Regions from separate parts of the Homo sapiens genome. Here region 2 is linked to region 1. Evidence: fine-mapped expression QTL. Tissue or cell type: whole blood. Region 1 holds a variant in brackets; the other region holds the start of a gene. All regions are shown on one strand. Distances are from middle to middle.

Evidence for each region. PIP is the estimated chance that this variant, and not a neighbour inherited with it, causes the effect.
Region 2: it holds the start of TMEM38A, and the variant in region 1 is fine-mapped to the expression of TMEM38A in whole blood (TOPMed, PIP above 0.99).

Annotation. Positions count from the first base shown.
Region 1 is chr19:16,684,298-16,692,474 of GRCh38, forward strand. TMEM38A (transmembrane protein 38A) reads left to right here. Exons shown (of 6, transcript NM_024074.4): 5 at 1,991-2,108; 6 at 3,847-5,726. The coding sequence ends at 4,074. Among named protein-coding and RNA genes, the nearest start is that of TMEM38A, 27 kb to the left of the region's middle. The variant A/T (reference allele first, on the strand shown) is at 4,512.
Region 2 is chr19:16,657,507-16,665,683 of GRCh38, forward strand. It overlaps TMEM38A (transmembrane protein 38A), which reads left to right and starts at 3,633. Exons shown (of 6, transcript NM_024074.4): 1 at 3,633-3,835. The coding sequence starts at 3,712. It overlaps SMIM7 (small integral membrane protein 7), which reads right to left and starts at 2,638. Exons shown (of 5, transcript NM_024104.4): 1 at 2,579-2,638; 2 at 2,453-2,494; 3 at 1,889-1,941. The coding sequence starts at 2,604. RefSeq lists silencers at 3,231-3,430, 3,451-3,700 and an enhancer at 3,986-4,794.

The sequences.
Region 1 (8,177 bases):
ATCCCATCTCTAAAAAAAAAAAGAAAAAAAAAATTAGCCAGGTGTGGTGGTGTGTGCCTGTAGTCCCAGCTACTCAGGACGCTGAGGCAGGAAGATCGCTTGGTCTCAGAAGGTTGAAGCTGGAGTGAGCTGTGATCACACAAGTGTACTCCAGCCTGGGCAACAGAGCGAGACCTTGTCTCAAAAAAAAAAAAGCAATGAGAGACAGACATCAGGAATAGAAGTCACAGGTCTGTCTTTTGCAACAAATAAAAATATCTTAAACCTATTTTGCAAGGAAAAAAATAAAAGTTAAGGAAAACTCTGCATGTTGTAATCACATTTTCTGGGGGAAATAAGCTGATGGGGGATCCCCAAGATCATCCTGATGTTCCATGATTTGCTAGAAGGACTCAGAGAACTTAGCAAAGCCATTATATTCAGGGTTATGATTTATTACAGTGACAAGATATAGAATAAAATCAGCAGAGGCAGCTCACACCTGTAATCCCAGCACTGTGGGAGGCCGAGATAGGAGGATTGCTCAAGGCCAGGAGTTCAAGACCAGCCTATGCAATAGAACAAGACTCCATCTCTACAAAAAAAAAAAAAAAACTTAAAAATTAAGCAGGCACAGTGGCACATAACTCTAGCCCTAGCTACTTGGGGGGCTGAGGTGGGAGAATCACTTGAGCCTCAGAGTTTGAAGTTACAGTGAGCCATGATCAGACCACTGCACTCCAGCCTGGGTGATAGAGAGAGACCCTGTCTCTGTAAATAAATAAATAAATAAATAAATAAATAAATAAAACGAAATCAGCAGGGGTTGGCTGGGCGTGGTAGCTCATGCCTGTAATCCCAGCACTTTGGGAGGCTGAGGCGGGTGGATTATTTGAGGTCAGGAGTTCAAAACCAGCCCGGCCGACATGGCGAAACCCCATCTCTAGTAAAAATACAAAAATCAGCTGGCGTGGTGGCGGGCATCTGTAATCCCAGCTACTCGGGAGGCTGAGGCAGGAAAATCACTTGAACCCAGGAGGTGGAGGTTGCAGGGAGCTGAGATCATGCCACTGCATTCCAGCCTGGGTGACAGAATGAGACTCTGACTCATACACAAACAAGAAATCAGCAGGGGCAAAATGTGCATGAGGCAGAGTACAGGAAAGAAAAGGTGAAAATATCCAGTTTTCCTCTCCCAGTGGAATCATGTGGACAGGGCTTCATTCTCCCAGCAGCAATGTGTGACAACATGCATGGTGTACTGCCAACCAGGGAAGCTCTTCTGAGCCTGGGTATCCAGGATTTTTATTGTGGCTCAGAACTAGCTAACCACCTGTGTGGCTGACCTCAGTCTTCAGCCCCTCTAGAGGTCCACCTGATGCTGCATGGCCCAAGACCCCCACCATAAATTACGTTGTTACTACCTGGTGTGGCCCAAGGCCGTCCTCAGGCAAACAAAGACAGTCTTATCAAGGCAGGACACTCCAAGGGCTTAGAGGGCATATTCCAGGAGCTGGACAAAGGCCAGATCTTTCCTTGGACCAGGTTAACCCATCATGCATAGGATGACACCATCTCAACCTGCCACCTTACAATCAGGAGAAGCTGTGGCTGGGCGCAGTGGCTCATGCCTATAATCCCAGCACTTTGGGAGGCCGAGCAGATCACTTGAGGCCAGGAGTTCGAGACCAACCTGGCCAACATGGTGAAACACTGTCTCTCCTAAAAATACAAAAATTAGCCAGGCATGGTGGCATATGCCTGTAATCCCAGCTACTTGGGAGGCTGAGGTGGGAGAAACACTTGAAACAAGGAGGTGGAGGTTGCAGTGAGCCGAGGTTGTGCCACTGCACTCCAGCCTGGGCAACAGAGTGAGATTCCATCTCAAAAGGAAAAGAAAAGAGAGAAGCTGGGATGGGAGCTGGTGCCAGGGCAGGGGGGTGTCTGGGCCAGAGTTATGAAGACTTGAGCCATGCAGGCACCTCCCGGTAATGACAGCTGCTCCCTCCAGCCCCACCAAGGCCAGCCTGTATGGAGCCATCCTCTTCACCCTCCAGCAGACCCGCTGGCTCCCAGTGTCCAAAGCCAGCCTCATCTTCATCTTCACCTTGTTCATGGTGTCCTGTAAGGTAAGCCTTTCTCTTCTTGCAGCATTCTTGCCTTGACCAATGCCACCCTGCCACCTCCAGGTTGGGAGTGGGGAAATTGGACACTCCCAGCCTTATGTGGCTGGGACAGGCAGCCCAGAGAGGGGAGATGCTTGCCAGTAGGTCACTGGGAAGAGAGTTTAAAAGGCAGTGTCCAGCAGCCAGGACACAGATGAGAGGAACAGGCCTTCTGTGTAAAGGACCCAGCCTGAGCCAGGGTCAAGGTGGGCCCACTCTCTTGGGTACAGAGACCAGAGGGACAAGAAGCTGAAATGGCAGCATCAGGTACCCAGGAACTCAGTTGGACCAGGAATACTTCTAGTCTGACAGTCATGCCTTGAGTTGACATCACCCCACCCAGGAGGGGTCTTCAGGGGCTGGGCTCTCTCCCTCTGCATGAAGATCTTAGCTCAGGGCTGTGTCTTCCCTGGGTGAGGACTCCAGGGCTGTCAAAAGGGAGTGAGCATGTCTTCCTGCATTAGGCGAGAAGGGAGAGGCAAGCAGATGGCTGGGATCCTGTCCTGCTATGTTTGTAGCTCTACCCCAGGCCAAATGTCTTAGTCCATTCAGGCTGCTGTATAACAGAATGCAGTACCATAGACTGGGTGGCTTAGAAACAACAGAAATTTATTCCTGGGCAGGCACGGGGGCTCATGCCAACACTTCAGGGGGCCAAGGCAGGCAGATCACTTGAGGCCAGGAGTTCAAGACCAGCCTGGGCAACATGGCGAAACCCCATCTCTCCTAAAAATACAAAAATTAGCCAGGCGTGGGGTCACATGCCTGTAATCCCAGCTACTCGGGAGGCTGAGGCAGGAGAATCGCTTGAACCCGGGAGGTGGAGGTTGCAGTGAGCTAAGATCGCACCACCGCACTCCAGCCTGGGCAACAAATTGAGACTCTGTCTCAAAAACAAACAAACAGGCAAACAAAATACAAATACAAAAATTAACCAGGCGTGGTGGCGCATGCCTGTAATCCCAGCTACTTGGATGGCTGAGGCATGAGAATTGCTTGAACCCAGGAGGTGGAGGCTGCAGTGACCTGAGATCATGCCATTGCACTCCAGTTTGGGCAACAGAGTGAGACCCTGTCTCCAAAAAAAGGAAAAGGAAGAAATGTATTTCTTACAGTTCTGGAGGCTGGGAAGTCCAAGATCAGGGTACTAGCCTGGTCGGGTTCTGGTGAGGGCCCTCTTTACTGGTTGCAGATAGGCAGCATCTCACTGTGTCCTCGCATGGTGGAAGGGACTGGTTAGCTCTCCTGGGCCTCTTTATAAGGGCACTAATGTCTTTCCTGAGGGCTCCACCCTTATGATCTAATTACCCCTCCAAAGGCCTTACCTCCTAATACCATCACCTTTGTGATAGGTTTCAACATATGAATTTGGGAGGACACAGACCTTCAGACCTGCACTTAGCACAGCTTTTCTCTGAGCCCAGGTGTCGTGGGGAATTCTGGGGGATGGGTGACCAGCAGTCTCAGTGTGCTTGGAACTTTCCAGGGGTCAACACTTGAAATCTGGCATCCTGGGAAACCTGAGATGGTCGCCCATCATCCTGGGGGTGCATGCAGCCAGAGGGCTGGGTCTGGGCTACCTCCAACCTTGACTTTGATGACATTCTCTCCCCTCTTCTCCCCACCCTGCCCTCCACTCCTTTGCTTTCTACCTTGGTCTCCCTCTGTCTCTCTTGCTGTCTCCCTGGCCACCCCACCTCAGGTGTTTCTGACAGCCACCCACTCACACAGCTCCCCCTTTGATGCCCTGGAGGGCTACATCTGCCCCGTGCTGTTTGGTTCGGCCTGCGGGGGTGACCATCACCACGACAACCATGGTGGGTCCCACAGCGGTGGTGGGCCAGGAGCTCAGCATTCGGCCATGCCCGCCAAGTCCAAGGAGGAGTTGAGCGAGGGCTCCAGGAAGAAGAAGGCCAAGAAGGCGGATTAGGGGGTGGCCCAAGGGGCACCGGGGAGAGGACCCGGACCCAGGACCCTCTGAGCTGGGAGGCTTCCTGCGCTCAGATCTATCCTTTCCTGGCCTTGACTTCCCCATCTGCAAATCAGGGTCATTGGCTCACCCTCCAGGGCTGATGTGGGGGTTGAGATATGGGGATGAGGATGAAGAACTTTTGTAGAAATCGGGGTTCCCTCTTTCTCTCTGCCAGGACCCCATAGAGTCACAGCTTTTGGAGGGGTTCACAGAATCCTGGCAGCAGCTCCAGTCAAGAATGTCACTGGTTGGCATGATATTCTTAGTTGTATTTTTCCTTCTTTAAAATTGCATCTTGACCAGGCACAGTGGCTCATGCCTATAATCCTAGCACTTTGGGAGGCCGAGGCGGGCAGATCACCTGAGGTCAGGAGTTCAAGACCAGCTTGGCCAAC[A/T]TGGTGAAACCCCATCTCTACCAAAAATACAAAAATTAGCCAGACGTGGTGGTGCACGCCTTTAATCCCAGCTACTCGGGAGGCTGAGGCAGGAGAATCACATGAATCCAGGAGGTGGAGGTTGCAGTGAGCTGAGATCTTCCCACTGCACTCCAGCCTGGCCAATAAGACCTGTCTCCAGCAAGACCCTGTCTCAAAAAAAAAAAAAAAAATTGCATATTGACTCCTGAAGAACTTCAAGCCATGTTGAGATCCATTCATTTGATGGACATTTTCTAAGTACCTGTGAGCCAGGTGCTGCCATTTCAAAGTCTCTTCTTACCACGCTCCTCAGTGGCTAGACATTTTCACGTGGCCAGAAAGTCCCGACTCTTGCTGGGCGTCCCTGGACAAGTTGCCTTCCTCCTCTGAGCTTGGCGCTCCCCATCTGTATAGTGGAGACCCTTGGCCCCCCTCTGTACGGAAGGGCCGATGCGAAGCTGCAGTTAAAAAAGGCTCACATGCTCCTAGCCTCGTGCAGTCAGGAGGGGAGACCAGGACAGTTGGAAATTATGATTGCAAATGGCTTTGCATTTTAGATCATTCGTGTGTGTGGATCAGAGAAACGCACAAGTTCCCTGGCACAAAGGAAGCCCTCAGTAGACACGTCTAGGGCAGGCTTGAGAGATCAGATGGCGTGAAAGGCTTGTGATCTGTTCGTCTCAGGCTCCCCCTAAACCAAAGAAATGGAAACAGCTGGTTGGGGTTCCACGATCCAGCTCTATCAAGGGGCTCTGAGTGTGCACAGTTGGGACCTGGATGTATCAGGTCTCCCTCAGGCTGGAGTCCACTGTCACTCATTCAGCCATTGAACAAACATACAGATGCTTACCTGCTCTGTGGTCAGCCTTGTGCTGCTGCTGGGCGGGCCAGGAGCCTGCTTCAGTGTGAGCGAGGTGGATGATATTATAGCTGAAGGGTCCCTCCTGGTCACCCTCATCTCAGCCTAGGTCACCAGGATGTCTGAGAGGGGTGGGTGCATGGGACGGGCGTGGCCAGTCTCAGGTGAGGTTTGGGCCCAGACCTCGTTGGAGTCCCAGACGTTGCCAGGCTGTTGGAAAATTGCCTTGTTCCTGTGATGCCTGGGAGTTAGGTGGGTCCTGGGGAGGTTTCATCCTCTTGCTTGTCCACCTCAGCTCGGTGTGGAGGGGCAGCCAATAAATCATTGTGAATGAACCCTCATGGCTTGTCTGATTTATGCCTGGGATTTTGTTTTTTGTTTTTGTTTTTGTTTGAGACCGAGTCTCACTCTTGCCCAGGCTGGAGTGCAGTGGCCCGATCTTGGCTCCCTGCAACCTCCACCTCCCGGGTTCAAGCAATTCTCCTGCCTCAGCCTCCCGAGTAGCTGGGATAATAGGTGCCCGCCATCACACCTGGCTAATTTTTGTATTTTTAGTAAAAGCGGGGTTTCACCATGTTGCCATGCTGGTCTTGAACTCCTGACCTCAAATGATCCACCCACCTTGGCCTCCCAAAGTGCTGGGATTACAGGTGTGAGCCACTGAGCCCAGCCACATGCCTGGGATTTTGGCCTCAAGATGTGGGGATGGCTGGGCATGGTGGCTCATCCCTGTAATCTCAGCACTTTGGAGGGCTGAAGCGGGCAGATCACCTGAGGTCAGGAGTTCAAGACCAGCCTGGCCAACATGGTGAAACCCTGCCTCTACTAAAACTACAAAAATTAGTCAGGTGTGGTGGCAGGTGCCTGTAATCCCAGCTACTCGGGAGGCTGAAGCAGGAGAATCGCTTGAACCTGGGAGGTGGAGGTTGCGGTGAGCTGAGGTGGAGACATTGCACTCCAGCCTGGACAACAAGAGCAAAACTCATTCTTTAAAAAAAAAAAAAAAAAAAAAAGGCTGGGCATGGTGGCTCACACCTGTAATCCCAGCACTTTGGGAGGCCAAGGCAGGTGGATCACGAGGTCGGTGGATCACGAGTTCAGTAGATCAAGACCATCCTGGCTAACATGGTGAAACCCCATCTCTACTAAAAATACAAAAAATCAGCTGGATGTGGTGGCGGGCGCCTGTAGTCCCAGCTACTTGGGAGGCTGAGGCAGGAGAATGGCGTGAACCTGGGAGGCAGAGCTTGCAGTGAGCGGAGATCGCGCCACAGCACTCCAGCCTGGCAGACAGAGCGAGACTCCATCTCAAAAAAAAAAAAAATGTATACTGTGTACAGTATACATTACATACATTATATGAAATCCTAGAAAAAGCAAACTAATGTATAATTACAGAAAGCTGATCAGTGGGTGCTTGGGGAAAGGCAGGTAGGGTGGGGTGGGCAGGAGGGATTTTGAAGGGGCAAGGGGACATGAGTGATGAGTCTGTTAACTTCTTTGATTGTGTTAGTTTCTCGGGTCTATACACATGTCAGAACCTATTACATTGTACATTGCAAATACACACAGTACCTCATTTGTCAGTGATGCCTCAATAAAGCTGTAAAAAAGAACCCTTCAATTATAAGGGAAAAAAGTGCGAGCTTGGTGGCTCACGCCTGTAATCCCAGCACTTTGGGAGGCTGAGGCAGGAGGATCACTGGAGCCCAGGAGTTGGTGATCAGCCTGCACAACATAGTGAGACTCTGTCTCTACAAAAAAAAATTTAAAAATTAGCCGGGGGTGGTGACTCGTGCCTGTAGGCCCAGGCACTCTGGAGGTTGAGTGGGGAAAATCACTTCAGCCCAGGAGGTTGAGGCTGCAGTGAGCTAAGATTGGGCCACTGCACTTCAGCCTGGGCGGAACAGTGAGACCCTGTCTCAAATAAATAAATAAAATAAGAATAAAGTAGAAAAAAACTCCACACCAAATTGGGCAAAAGAAGCTGGGCATGGTGACTCACACCTGTAGTCCTAGCTACTCTGGAGACCAAGGCAGGAGGATCACTTGAGCCCGTTAGGTGGTGTCCAACCTGGGCAACATAGCAAGACCCTGTCTCAAAAAAAAACTGGGCAAAAGATTTGAATAGACACCACCAAAGAAATTATATGGTTGGCAGATATCATATAAATTGCACATTAAAACCACAAGCATATGCCACTGCATACCTGTTATGAATTGAATTGGGTTCCTCTCAAATTCATTTGTTGAAGTCTTAACCCCTAAGGTATTAGGGGGTGGGACCCTTGGGAGATGATTAGGTCATGAGGGTGGGGCTCTCATAATGGGATTAGTGCCCTTACAGAAGAGGCCCCAAAGAAACACTTTGCTCTTCCTACCATGTGAGGACACAGAGAGAAGACACGTATGAACCAGGAAGCCGGCCCTTACCACACAGTGAATCTGCCAGTATCTTGATCATGAACTTCCCAGCCTCCAGAACTGTGAGAAATAAATTTCCGTTGTTTATAAGCCACCATTTTCTAGTATTTTCTTGTAGCACCCTAAATGGACTAAGACAGGAGATAAGGCCTTTTTTTTTTTTTCTTTTGGAGATGGAGTTTCCCTCTTGTTGCCCAGGCTGGAGTGCAGTGGCGCCATCTCAGCTCACTGCAATCCCTGCCTCCCAGGTTCGATCGATTCTCCTGCCTCAGCCTCTGGGATTACAGGCATGTGCCACCACGCCCAGCTAATTTTTTGTATTTTTAGTAGAGACAGGGTTTCACCATGTTGGCCAGGCTGGT
Region 2 (8,177 bases), 27 kb before region 1:
CCGCTAGAGTCAGAAAAACCCAGGTTCTAATCCTGATTCTCATTGATTCCCTATGTGGCCACAAAAAAGTTGAGCCACATCTCTGACCCTCAGTTTCCTGATCTGTAAAATGGGAAAGTGACCATTATCTTTTAAGAATGGAGGGAGAATGCAACACTAACAGGAAGCACCTAACTGGGTCAGCACCCAAGGGCAGGCCCCCAAAAAGGGGAGCTGCTGGAGTGTCTTCAAAATCTCAGCTCGGCCAGGCGTGGTAGCTCATGCCTGTGATCCCAGCACTTTGGGAGGCTGAGGTGGGAGGATCGTTTGAGACCAAGAGTTGGACACCAGCCTGGTTAACACAGCGAGATACCTATCTCTACAAAAAACATTTAGAAAATTAGCCAGGCGTGGTAGTAAGTGCCTGTAGTCCCAGCTACTTGGGAGCCTGAGGCAAGAGGATCTCTTGAACCCAGGAGCTCAAGGCTGCAGTGAGCTATGACTGTGCCGCTGCACTCCAGCCTGGGCAACAGAGCAAGACCCTGTCTCTAAAAGAAGAAAACCTCTGTTCCTCAGGGTTCCCCCATCCTTGGGCAGTGCTCCATCATGGCATCCACCGCCTTGACTGTGACGCCGCCTCCTCAAATGGCCTTCCCTTCCACACCCCAGCAGGAGGGCAACCCCATCACCATCCTGTGACTCCCTGCCTCTGTCACCTAACGTCACCTCTGTCACTATCTATTCCCTGCTTAGAAACCATGTGTCCCACCCCATGGTAAGTTCCACTCTATCTGTCTTACCCCTGCTGTACCCCAGCACCTAGCACAGTAGCCAGCATGCGTTAGGTACTCAAATATCTGGTGAATGAAAGAATTAATGAATGGATACAATAGTCATGTACAGATCCCCTTAAGACTCCAAATAGTTACACAATCAAATTCAGCAGGAAGTGTAAATTCTGGGGCCTCCAGGGCCCAGGCAGATGATAGACATATGAAGGGGTTAGGGCTGGGATGAGGCAGAGTCTACAGGCCCCACCTCCTCAGAGTCCTTCTCAACTACACTCAATAGATGCAAACAGCTCTCCTGAATCTTGAGTTGCAGAATGTTCCAATTTTTCAAGAAAAATCAGACATCTTAATTTTTATATAAAATCTCCTGATTAAAAATCTAATGTTGGCATCTAATTTTAAAAGTGGCAGGTCTGCAGCACTCTGAAAGCAACAGCTATGTGTGAGGTTGTTCATTCATTCATTCACAGGCATCGGAGGACGGGTACGGCAAGAACAAAGGATGGGACAAGCCAAGCTAGGGCCTCTTCTCTGAAGTTTACAGTCATATGTGAGGGGCAGACATTAGCCAGATGACAGCAAACATAACAGAACATTATAACGGTAGGAAGTGATGTGAGTGCTCACATCAGGGAGGTCTGGTAGGAGAAAGAAATAGATGACAGAGGTAGGCAGAAAGGCTAGCACATTCTCAGTCATCTCCCACTCACACACACGCTCAATTAAAGAGAAAACTTGTGGCTCACGCCTGTAATCCCAGCTCTTCGGGAGGCCAAGGCAGGGATCACTTGAACCCAGGAGTTCGAGACCGGCCTGGGCAACGTGGAGAAACCCCATCTCTACAAAAAATACAAAATTTAGCCTGGCATGGTGGCACACACCTGTAATCCCAGCTACTAAGGGGGCTGAGGTGGAAGGATCACTTTAGCTCAGGAGGTCGAGTCTGCAGTGAGCCATGATCGCACCACTGCACTCCAACCTGGACAACAGAGCAAGACCTTGTGTCAAAAAAAAAAAAAAAAAAAAAAGAGAAAGAAAGAAAACGAAGGTAGGGCTTGGCGAAACAGAACTGTCCTCTGAAGTGGACCATGCAATTCCAGGATCCAATTAGACCTTACCTGTGCTGGGCTCCCTGGACTCCTCCCCAAAGCCCTGCGTGTCCTTCTTTTTCCTACAAAGAGGAGCAGACAGTGTCCACTTTCAATGGGACATAGAGTCCTCAGCCCCCTGACCCCCAGCTCAGAAGGCCACAAACACTAAGTTTCAGCCCTGGCCCTGCCGCAAACTTGCTGTGTGACCTCTGACGTTCAATACCCTTCTCTGGGCCCCCACTGCCCGGACAATCACAGCCAGGTCAGCAGCCACCGACCGTTTACAAAGTGGCCCGACAGTGCGGGTGCAGGGCGGAAGGTCCGCGGTGGGGCTATTTCTTGGGGGATGGGGCTTAAGCTCTCCAGGAAGGTGAACAGAGGGACAACCAAGGAACGGAGAGTATGGGTTTAAGGTCTCTCGGGGGGTGGGGGGCGAGGAAGATAAACCAGGCTGGAGGCGTGCCCAGAGGGCGGATAGGGCGGGGCCTGCGGCTTGGGGGCGGGGCCTGAGAAGTGCGCCGAGATCACGCTTATGAGGGCGGGGCTACGGGTTCCCCGGATGGAGCCGCAGTCCGGCCGCGACCTACTCACAGCTTAAAGTTCAGCACCGCCCCGGCATTCATCAGCAACGTCCTGCAGAGGGAGAATTACAGTTACTAGGGGCGCCCCCGCGTCCTGCCTGGCTCTCTCTTCCCAGCCTCTGGTCCCCCTAATTACCCGAACAGCAGGATGTCTCCGATCATCGTTACGGCCGAAGCGTCCGTCAGAACCGGAAGCGGAAGCCCCAGGGAGGGAGGGGAGAGGAGCACAAGCCGACCAATCCTAAAGCAACAGTGGCGAGGGCTGGGCCAATCGAAGGTCAAGGCTGGGAGGGTCCCGCCCTCTGCAGGCCAGACCCCCTTAGGGGAGCGCGAGCGCCCCACCTCGCTGGGGAGGCCCCGAGAGCCAGAATGGGAGGAGCGGGGTCTCCTGGGGGCGGGATTGGGTCACGCGTTCGAAGCGTGCCGCGCATGCGTGAGGTCTCGATGCCGTAGGGTTAGCTGGGCAGCAATTCCTACTCACTTTCTGGGGTCCCAAATTGGGCTTCTGGACAAAAGGAATCCTTTGACTCCTGAGCTGCACAGGGTGCGGGGTCCTGACGCAGTGGGGTCCCTAGAAACGGGTGCCCCAACCAACTGGGCTCTAAAATGAGATCCTCCTGGGCCCCATGGGGAACGGGGGTTCCCACTGAGCTGCCCCCCACAAGACGTCCTGATTTGCAGAGCCCCACCGGAGACGGGGTTCCTGATCGAACGGACCCTATGGGGCAGAAAAGTCTTGACGGGGCTCCACAGAGGACCGAGGTCCTAACCTATCTCCACGGGGAACAGGGGTTCTGATTCATGGGGTCCCACCATGGCGTAGGGGTCCTCACTGGGCTCCACCGAAGATCGGGGTCCTAATTGAGCCCACGGGGACAAAGTCCTGGCCGATCCGGCCCCCTGGGAACGGGCGTCCCGCGTGGGTGGGCTCCGTGAGGGACGGGCCCCCAGAACAGGCAGCTCCCCAGCCTCCCTCGCCTTGCACGGGTGCCCCGCACCCCGCCTCGCTGGGCGGAACGGGGTAGCGATGGCAGGAGGGTCAACGCCTGGGACGCCCGACCGTCCAGCTGCGTCCGTGGTGCTGGGCGTCCCCACCACCTGTCCCGGGGTGGGCCGTCGCCCCTCCTCTCCCGCGGGGGCCGGGCCTGGGGTGGCGCCTGGCGGGCGGGGGCGGGCCCAGCTGCGGGGGCGCAGTCGCCGGGCCGCGGGCGGCGGGACGGACGAGGCCGGGGCCCCGGGTGGCACCCGGCAGGCGGGCAGGCGGGCGCCATGGAGCTGCTCTCGGCGCTGAGCCTGGGCGAACTGGCGCTCAGCTTCTCGCGGGTGCCGCTCTTCCCCGTCTTCGACCTCAGTTACTTCATCGTCTCCATCCTCTACCTCAAGTATGAGCCAGGTGAGCCGGGGCGGGGGGCTGGAGGGGACCGGCAGCGGGTGGCGCGGGCCGGGGCAGCTCGGGGGTCGCAGAGAGGGGAAGCCCGTGCGTGGTGGAGGGAGCGAGGGACAGGTTCAAGGATTGCATCGTGGGAGTAGGCAGGCGCTAGAATCGTGGGGTTCTCTCACGCCGGGGTGAGCCCGGGGGAGAAGCCCCCAGGACGATGAAGCTGGGGGAGGGGAAGGAGAGGCGTGCGCGGGTTTAGAGGAGGGGGAACAGGTGCTTGGGGTCGGGGCTCCTGGTTGGGTCAGAGCTGCAGGAACTTGGGCAAGGGGCGCCGGCTGTGGCGAGGGTGCAGGTGGGGGTCGGTGCATCTGTTCTGGCCGCGCGCAGGTGTGACCTCCCTCCTTGACCTTGGCACGCGGATTGAGAGCGCCAGCGGAGTGTCTATAAGGGCCACTGCGCTGGGGGCTGCGGTCAGGTTCAGCGAAAGTGACACCGGTTCTCCTCCCCACTGCAACTGCCCAGCACCCTCCACTCCCCTCCCTTCCCCCACGGTGCTGAATCTCCGAGCCCCCACGGGAATTCTTCCAGCCCTGGCTCCAGATCCTTTCCACTTACGGAGCAGAACCGGCCCCAAGGCTGGGTGACTTGGGGTCAGTGTCCTCCATCTCAGCTCCAGACTCCACGCTGGGGAGGTCACAGGAGGGTACAGCCTGCTTCTTAATTTTTAAAATGAGGATGAATGGCTTCCTTAGAACGTGTTCTATTTTTATAAAAGGTTCACCGTGAACAAATGTTTAAATGTTTCTTGTTCACCGTTATTCTAGAACACCAGCAACTTACTAGATAATAGATTTTAGGCTTAGAAAAATAAAGGAACCCCAAACTTCATAAGCCTTTCTCCCACTTAGATGTAAATTACCACTATAGCTCAGAAAGGAAATAGCTTTATTCTCAGAGGATAAAAATAAGCGCCCCTGTTTACTAAAAACTCAAACTGAAAAGGGCAAAGGAAAAAAAGAGAATTACTGTCAACATACTGGTGGCCAGCCACCTTTCTTGATGTCTCTTCTATTCATTTACGGCTATATAGTTATAAACGTAAATGCACGCTTTTTTTTTTTTTTTTTTTTTTGCGGTTTTTTTTTTAGATGGAGTTTCGCTCTGTCGCCCAGGCTGGAGTGCAGTGGCGTGATCTCGGCTCACTGCAACCTCCACCTTCCAGGTTCAAGCGATTCTCCTGCCTCAGCCTTCTGAGTAGCTGGGACTACAGGCACCCGCCACTACACTTGGCTAATTTTTGTATTTTTAGTAGAGACAAGCCTTCACCATGTTGGCCAGGATAGTCTCGATCTCCTGACCTTGTGATCCACCCACCTAGGCCTCCCAAAGTGCTGGGATTACAGACGTGAGCCACTGCACCCAGCCAATGCACGCTCTTATGCTAACAGGATTACACTCTATTTGCTAGGAATTTTTATTCTATTTTTGCCTATCCACATGCCAGAGCCTATTTTCTTAAAAGCTATCCTGGAGAACATTACTTTGCAAAACAAAATAGGCTTTTGTGTTGTCCTAGCATGAACATGGGGCTATCTTTCCTTTCTGGGGAAGAATTCTTGGTGGTTCAGGCCAGTTCCTTGGGCAGTTGCAGAACCTTAGAAAATCTGAAACTGGCTGGGCACAGTGGCTCACGCCTGTAATCCCAGCACTTTGGGAGGCCAAGACGGGCAGATCGCCTGAGGTCAGGAGTTCGAGACCAGCCTGGCCAACATGGAGAAACCCCGTCTCTACTGAAAATAAAAAAATTAGCCAGGCATGGTGGCACATGCTTGTAATCCTAGCTGCTTGGGAGGCTGAGGCAGGAGAATCACTTGAACCTGGGAGGCGGAGGTTGCAGTGAGCCGAGATCACGCCATTGCACTCCAGCCTGGGCGACAGAGCAAGACTCTGTCTCGAAAAAAAAAAAAATCTGAAACTGAGGAGGGTTGGAGCCCTGTGGGAATGTAGGACACAAATGTCTTGAGAAAAGAGGTCTCCAAGCTGCCTGGGAACTTGCAGGAAGGTTCAAGATATTTCTGCAGAAGTCCTAGAATAAGCCATCCAGGCTCTAAGTGCCAGAGCCTGAAGGTTCCTGAAGGCTGAGAAGTGGTTCCAAACCCTGGCTATTCATGAATTCATGAGACGCTCCTGGGAGCTTTTTTTCTTTTCTTTTTTTTTTTTGAAACGGAGTCTCGCTCTGTCGCCCAGGCTGGAGTGCGGTGGCGCCGCCTCTGCTCACTGCAAGCTCCGCCTCCTGGGTTCACACCATTCTCCTGCCTCAGCCTCCCAAGTAGCTGGGACTACAGGCGCCCACCACCATGCCCGGCTAATTTTTTTTTTTTTTGTATTTTTAGTAGAGACAGGGTTTCACCGTATTAGCCAGGATGGTCTCGATTTCCTGACCTTGTGATCCGCCTGCCTCGGCCTCCCAAAGTGCTGGGATTACAGGTGTGAGCCACTGCGCCCGGCCTCCTAGGAGCTTTTAAACCCCCTATCTCCACCCCCCACCAATTGAATCAGAATATTAATCTCCCCTCCCTCAGTGACTGATGTCTGTTATCAGGGCTGAGGATACTCCACCCAGTTCAACCTCCTCCTTTCATAACTGGGGAAACAGGAAATAGTGGCTAAGCTATCTTAAATACACAATGAGCCTGTGGTCCCATGGCTGGTCAGTTGCAGCCTCGGGACTCAGCCCAGGTCTGCTTGACTCTAAGAATCAGTACAATTGATGTGAGATTGGTTTCCTTAGAAAAGAAAGGTGTTGGAGGCCAGATGTGATGGCTTATGCCTGTAATCCCAGCACTTTGGGAGGCGAGGCGGGTGGATCACTTGAGCCCAGGACTTTGAAACCAGCCTGGGCAACATGACAAAACCCCGTCTCCACTACAAATGCAAAAAAATAGCCAGGTGTGGTGGCGCACGCCTGTAATCCCAGGTACTTGGGAGGCTGAGACATGAGAATAGCTTGAATCCAGGAGACGGAGGTTGCAGTGAGCCGAAATCTCGCTGCTGCACTCCAGCCTGGGTGACAGAGCCTGGCTGAGACTCTGTCTTGGAAAAAAGAAAGAAAGAAAAGAAAAGTGAGGTGTCGGATTGAACTGTTAGTCCCAGTTTGGTGTGCGTGCTGGGTATCTGTAAATTTTCTTCTCAGAATTTGTGTGCTGGACCAGCTACAGAATTTGCCAGGCCGATACAAAGTATCAGTGTGGGGCCTTTTGTTCAGAAATTAAGAATTTCATAGCCAGGCATGGTGGTGTGTGTCTGTGGTCCCAGCTACTTGGGAAGCTGAGGCTGGAGGATCACTTGAGCCCAGGAGTTGGAGCTCAACTGCGCCTGGCTGGGTCAGGCTTTCTTGAGAATCCTGAGAATGGATGAAGCTCAGAGTGTGGTCCTCAACAGAGCAGCATCAATGTTGCCTGGGAGCTGCAGCGAGCTATGATCACCCCACCGCCCTCCAGCCTGGGCAACAGAGCAAGACCGTGTCTCCTAAAAAAATAATAATAATAATAAAAAAAGAATGTCAGCATAGGTCAGATAATCTCAGCATTTGGGGAGGTCAAGGTTGGAAGATTGCTTGAGGCCAGGAGTTCATGGCCAGCCTGGGCAACATTGTGAAACCCCTTCTCTATAAAAAATACAAAAATGGCTAGGCGCGGTGTCTCATGCCTGTAATCCGAGCACTTTGGGAGGCTGAGGTGGGCAGATCACCTGAGGTCGGGAGTTCAAGACCAGCCTGACCTACATGGAGAAACCCTGTCTCTACTAAAAATACAAAATTAGCCGGACGTGGTGGCACATGCCTGTAATCCCAGCTACTAGGGAGGCTGAGGCAGGAGAATCGCTTGAACCTGGGAGGCAGAGGTTGCGGTGAGCCAAGATTGTGCCATTCCACTCCAGCCTGGGCAACAAGAATGAAACTCCGTCTCAATAAACAAATAAATAAAAATTAAAAAATGCAAAATACAAAAATATTAGCCAGGTGTGGTGGCATGTGCCTGTAGTCCTAGCTACTAGGGAAGCTGAGGTCGGAGGATTACCTGAACCCTGCAAGGTGGAGGCTGCAGTGAGCCATGATCGTGCCACTGCACTCCAGCCTGGGCAACAGAGTGAGACCCTGTCTCAAAAAAAAAAGAAAAAAGAAACTAAACGTCTCTGAATCATGGGAGTCAGTTCTACCACTAGCACTGAGTAAACACCACAATGGTTATTTCACCACCATGAGCTTCAGTTTATTTGTCTGTGAAATGGGATCATTGGTAAGAGAACCCCAGACTCCCTTTCCTAGCGATTGTAAAGATCTATTGAGAATTTTGTC